2 separate regions of the Homo sapiens genome follow, and region 2 is linked to region 1. The links come from fine-mapping of genetic effects on gene expression. A gene starts in region 1. The other region holds a variant in brackets. All regions are shown on one strand. Distances are from middle to middle. Region 1 holds the start of LRRC37B (leucine rich repeat containing 37B). Region 2 has its middle 3.3 kb from the start of VILMIR.

Region 1 (2,904 bases):
TTGCTTTTTAATCAGCCATTTACCAGCAACTGTTGCACTAGCCCGTCAGCACTCGAAGAATAAAAACAAACACACAGGACCAGGTAAAGTTCCCCTACTAACCAAAATGATCCGTTTCCTTAACACAATTTAAAAACCACAGCTAGGGGTGTGAACACAGGCATGTTTTTCTGTGTGTCTGTGTGCCACAATCTGTACAAATCCTTAATTCCCTTTTAAGGAACAGATATATAATGAAAATCCGAAAGGAAACACATTAGAAATGCAAAGAGGTTTGCAAAACAAGAGGCTTCTTTCATTCCAGAAAACCACACCAAAACAAGGGGAGAAAAATGAATGCAATGGATATGTGTTTGCCAAAGTTTCAATCCTGCCCGGTGGAGACACTGCACTGGCACAAATTTTGAGGAGAAAAAAAGGGAGTTGGGGGGACGGGGAGCAAGCGAGTGCGGCCTGCAACAATGCAATCTCCATTTTGAACAATGTGCTTCTTTCCTCTTATAAATCTAGTTTTTTGCCACTTGATGTGCCCTCCCATTTCCCCTCTAAAGTTTAGGGGTCGGCGGGGTTGGCGGGAGATCGGAGCGGGATGCACAGCACATAAGTGAGCAAGGGGGGAGGGGAGAGGAGGTGGGGAATGAGTCTGCAGCAACTGCGCTGGGTGGGTACCTGGAGTGCTGCTGAAGCTGCTTTCCGTGGAGTAACTGGCGTCCTCGTCGTCATCTTCCAGCTCCTCCGGATAATCGGAGTCATCGTCGTCCTCCTCCATGTCATCCTCCTAGTTGTCCTCAGACTCCTGGGTCTCCTCGGCATCGCCGCCCCCCTCCTCTTACTCCTCCTCCTCGCTCTCGTAGTCATCATACACCACTCTGTTGACAGCCCTCCGGGCTGCGGTGGTCCGGGCTAGGTGGCTGCCCCCGCGCCCCCGCCGGGCCCGTGCGCTGGTGCCGGCGCGGGGCGGGCCGGCGGCGGTGGCTTCCTCCGGCTACTGCTGCCCACCCTGGGCGAGCTCAGCCGCGTCTTGGGCGCCACCTCAGCCTGGCGGCTGCCCACCTGCCCCGGCTACTACCGCGTATCGGCGAGGGGAGCCCCCGATGGGTCCGGACGTGGGCGGCGGCGGCGGCGGGGCCGGGGCGCAGCGCTCCGCAGCGGGAGCCGCGGGCTGCTTGGTCGGCCTGCCCCGCCGGCCCCTCTTGTTGGAGCCCAGGCGGCGGGAGAAGGGAAAGCTGACGGGGAGGGCCGGGCGCAGTGGCGGCGGTGGGGAGCGCCGGGGCCGGGTTGGGAGGCCCGAGGGGCTGGGCGGGAGGGGCCCGGCCGGCGGAAGCGAGTGGAGGGAGAAGGCTCAACCGAATTGCTGGGGCCCCACTCAAGATCGCCTTCAACCGCCACCTTGTTTCTTCCCTCTACAGGAGCGCGGTCACGTGAGGTGCGCCGCCGCCCAGCCTGGGAAGGGGGCGAGGTGGCGCGGCGGCCGCTAGGGGGAGCGCGGGAGCATTGAGTCGGGGGCGGAGAGCTCGGGGCGCCTGGACTTGGCGCAGCACGGCGCTCCGGGTGCGGGTGGCGCGGCTGAAAGAGGCCCGCAGCTCCTGACAAGCCCCGCGTCTAAGGCCTTCGGAGACCACAGTCTCCGCGGACCCCTGGCTGGAGCCCAAAGCCTGCCGGGTCTCCTTCCCGCGACTCCCCTTCCGCGGCTCGGAGAGGAAGGCAGGAGAGCCCCCAAATATCGTTCCCCTCCCGCCCTCTAGGGAAACTGAGGCTGAAAGAGGCAGCGAGAGAAAGAAAAAAAAAGTCGCGGAGGGGGGCGGCCCGAGCGACCTAAGGGACGGGGCAGCGCCAGCGACCGAGGAAAATTAGTCGGGGTGGGGTACAGGGAGACAAGCCCCCAGAATTTAGGAAACTCCGAAGCTTGGAAGTGGAGTCCTGAATTGACTCCGATGACAACTGCTCCGGATCTGTGCCAGGAGCCACACCCCGGGCTGCCACGCCTGGAGGGAGGGGGGTCCCTAAGACCTGTTGCATGGGATCCCCACTCGGAAAGCCTCAGTAAACTCCAGAATGCAACTACTGCATGTTCCAATCTCCCGCCACCTTCCCAGTGTCCCAGCTAGGAGCCTGACCACCTTAGCAAGAACTTACCTCTCCTTTGCAGTGGAAAAGAGGGAATCCTGCCTAAAACCTACTTCACGGTGTTACAGGTCTGTATTATCGGGAAATAACCTTAATTTATTTACCTGACAAATCACTAGGTTTGAGCTCAGCCCAGGGGACGAATCATGGTGACAGTTCAGGCACCCTCAAACCTTATCACAGGGACTCAACCCTGAGTGGTTGAGGTCAGTTCTTCAGATAAGAGAAAGGTTTGCCGGGCACAGTGGCTGACGCCTGTAATCCCAGCACTTTGGGAGGCCGAGGCGGGCGGATCACAAGGTCAGGAGTTCGAGACCATCCTGGCTAGCACAGTGAAACCCCATCTCTACTAAAAATACAAAAAAAATTAGCCGGGCGTAGGTGGTGCACGCCTGTAGTCCCAGCTACTCGGGAGGCTGAGGCAGGAGAATGGCGTAAAATCCGGGAGGCGGAGGTTGCAGTGAACCGAGATCGCGCCACTGCACTCCAGCCTGGGAGACAGAGCGAGACTCCGTCTCAAAAAAAAAAAAAAAAAAAAAAAAAAAAAAAGAAAAAGAAAGGTTTCGTAAACATATGTTAATATTTATTGAGATAAGTGACAACCAAAAAGTAATTTAAACAAAAATACTTGGCCGGGCGCGATAGCTCATGCCTGCAATCCCAGCCCTTTGAGAAGCCAAAGCCGGACGATTGCTTGAGGTCAAGAGTTTGAGACTAGCCTGGGCAACATAGCAGGACCTCGTCTCTAGAAAAAAATTGAAAAATTAGCCGGGCATG
Region 2 (2,904 bases), 72 kb before region 1:
CTTTGGGAGGCCAAGGTGAGCAGATCACTTGAGGTCATGAGTTCGAGACTTGCCTTGAAAACATGGTGAAGCCCCGTTTCTACTAAAAATATAAAAATTAGCCAGGTTAGGCCAGGGACGGTGGCTTACGCCTGTAATCCCAGCACTTTGGAGGCCGAGGTGGGCGGATTATAAGGTCAGGAGTTTGAGACCAGCCAATATGGTGAAACCCCGTCTCTACTAAAAATACAAAAATTAGTCAGGTGTGGTGGGTGCCTGCCTGTAGTCCCAGCTACTCAGGAAGCTGAGGCAGAAGAATTGCTTGAACCTGGGAAGCAGAGGTTCCAGTGAGCTGAGATCGCGCCATTGCACTCCAGCCTGGGACACAGAGGAAAACTCCGTCTCAAAAAGAAAAAAAAATTAGCCAGGCATTGTGGAGGGTACCTGTAATCGCAACTCCTCAGGAGGCTGAGGCAGGAGAATCACTTGAACCTGGGAGGTGGAGGTTGCAGTGAGCCGAGGTCACACCACTCCACTACAGCCTGGGTGACAGAGCGAGACTCCATCTCAAAATAATAATCATAATAATAATGAAAAGAAATGATGCTGGATGCAGTGGCTCATGCCTATAATCCCAACACTTTGGGAGGCCAAAGCAGGAGGATCACTTGAAGCCAGGAGTTTGAGACCAGCCTGGGCAATGTAGCAGGACCCTATCTCTACAAAAACATATATATTTTAAAAATTAGCCAGGTGTGGTGGTGCATGTCTGTAGTCCCAGCTACTCGCATGGCTGAGGCAGGAGGATCACCTCAGTCCAGTAATTTGAGGCTGCAGTAAGGTGTGGTCATGCCACTGGACTCCAGCCTGGGCAATAGAGCAAGACCCTATCGCAAAATAAAAGAATAAAATATACAATAAAAATAAAACAGAGCAAAGAGAATGTCCCCTAGAGCCATGTGTGATCCATACGCTTTGTGAATCCTGACACCTCCTCTCCTTCGAGGTTGTACAACTGTCTTCCAAAGTTGGAAAAAAAATGTTTAAACCTGCCCAGATTCAGGAGGGAGGTCCCAGGGGTACCAGTGCCCTCCCCCATTTCCCAAGGACAACAAGGGTTTCCAGCCTCACTTGGCCTTGGGGTGTGCGCAGCTCGGTGTGAGGGCCAGTGGTTGATCTTGAAGTTTCTTTCCTACTCCCTCATCCGTTTCCTGCCCAAGCTGTGGTTCCAGCTGACTCCCCTATCAGAGGCTGCGAGTGAGTTCAGTTGTTATGGCAACGGGGCTGC[G/A]GAGATCCCCAGGAACCTGCTGGTCCGCCTCATTGCCTCACCGTATGGGGAGCTGCTTTTCCCCTTAAAAATGAAACGGGAGTGGGATGGGGGAGGAACCCCCTTCTTCTGCTCTGGAATGAAATGCCTCCCTCACCTGCTTTGTCGCAAACCCCCGGTTTGGAGAGGAGGGTCTGGATGGGACCCAGACTGTGGATAAGGATGGAGGGAGGAGAACTCCTGCTCCCTGGGTTTTAGCAGCCTTCCCAGGTCTCACAGAACACGAGGAACACGGTCTTTCTCCAGCTCCAACTTTTCTCATCTGTTCATTCATTTTTTCCACAGGAGGCATGAGGAGGTGAGAGATGGAAAGAATGCTGTCTGTCATTTGGAGTCAGAAGGAAAAGAAGGTTGAGGGTCTGCCAGCTCTGCTCTAGTGGTTTTTTCCTGTTTCACCTTTTACAAAATCGAGATAATCGTTTCTACTTGGTAGCGATATTGTGAGGTGTAAAATGGATTAATACATGCAAAATGCTTAAAGCAACTTCTGGCATACGGTGATCTCTCAACCAATCCATTGTTATTTTATTATTATTATTTTTTTGAGACAGAGTTTTGCTCTTGTTACCCAGGCTGGAGTGCAATGGTGTGATCTCGGCTCACTGCAACCTCTGTTTCCCGGATTCAAGCGATTTTCCTCCTCCTGAGTAGCTGAGATTACAGGTGCCCACCACCACACCCAGCTAATTTTTTGTTTTCTTTTGTTTTTTGTTTTTTTTTTTTGAGACAGAGTCTCACTCTGTTGCCCAGGCTGGAGTGCAGTGGCACGATCTCGGCTCACTGCAAGCTCTGCCTCCCGGGTTCACACCATTCTCCTGCCTCAGCCTCCCCAGTAGCTGGGACTACAGGCGCCCGCCACCACGCCTGGCTAATTTTTTGTATTTTTAGTAGAGATGGGGTTTCACCATGTTAGCCAGGATGGTCTCCATCTCCTGACCTCGTGATCCACCCACCTTGGCCTCCCAAAGTGCTGGGATTACAGGCGTGAGCCACCGCGCCTGGCCAATTTTTTGTATTTTTAGTAGAGATAAGGTTTCACCGTGTCAGCCAGGCTGGTCTCAAACTCCTGACCTCAGGTGATCCACCCGCCTCAGCCTCCCAAAGTGCTGGAATTACAGGTGTGAACCACCGTGCCCAGCAGGGAGACCCTGTTTCTACAAGAAAAAATTTACTGTGATCCCAGCACATTGGAAGGCCAAGGTGGGAGGATCACTTGAGCCTAGGAGTTCAAGTCCAGCCTGGGCAACATACATAGGGAGAACCCATCTCTTAAAAAAAGAAAAAAAGGAGAAATAATTACATGTAACCCTACCAGCAGTTTTGTGGGATTGCTATGATCATACCCATTTCACAGATTAGGTAACTGAGGTTTTAGTGCCCTGGAGATGAAGGCATTCTCTAGTCTCCCAGAAGCCCTGAACTCTTGAACAACCCCAAATGCTAAACTCAGCAGTAAAATGGCTGGTGGCTCCTACCTGAGGGTTCACAGAGGGGCTGCCTGTGCTTGCCTCCCAGCCCTTCCTTCCTGCATCCCAGCCCTTTCTTCCTGTGTATTAAGAGGGTTGCAGCTACTTCAGGGCCAGTGTCTCCACGAGTCA

Evidence for each region.
Region 2: its variant is fine-mapped to the expression of LRRC37B in lymphoblastoid cells (GTEx, PIP above 0.99). The same link has a PIP of 0.9 or more in whole blood.

Annotation. Positions count from the first base shown.
Region 1 is chr17:32,005,898-32,008,801 of GRCh38, reverse strand. It overlaps LRRC37B (leucine rich repeat containing 37B), which reads right to left and starts at 1,419. Exons shown (of 15, transcript NM_001321350.2): 1 at 670-1,419. It overlaps LOC124903972, which reads left to right and starts at 1,095. Exons shown (of 4, transcript XM_047437248.1): 1 at 1,095-1,426; 2 at 2,097-2,195. The coding sequence starts at 1,095. RefSeq lists silencers at 1,014-1,363, 1,404-1,453 and an enhancer at 1,496-2,418.
Region 2 is chr17:32,078,271-32,081,174 of GRCh38, reverse strand. No RefSeq gene overlaps it. Among named protein-coding and RNA genes, the nearest start is that of VILMIR, 3.3 kb to the left of the region's middle. The variant G/A (reference allele first, on the strand shown) is at 1,268.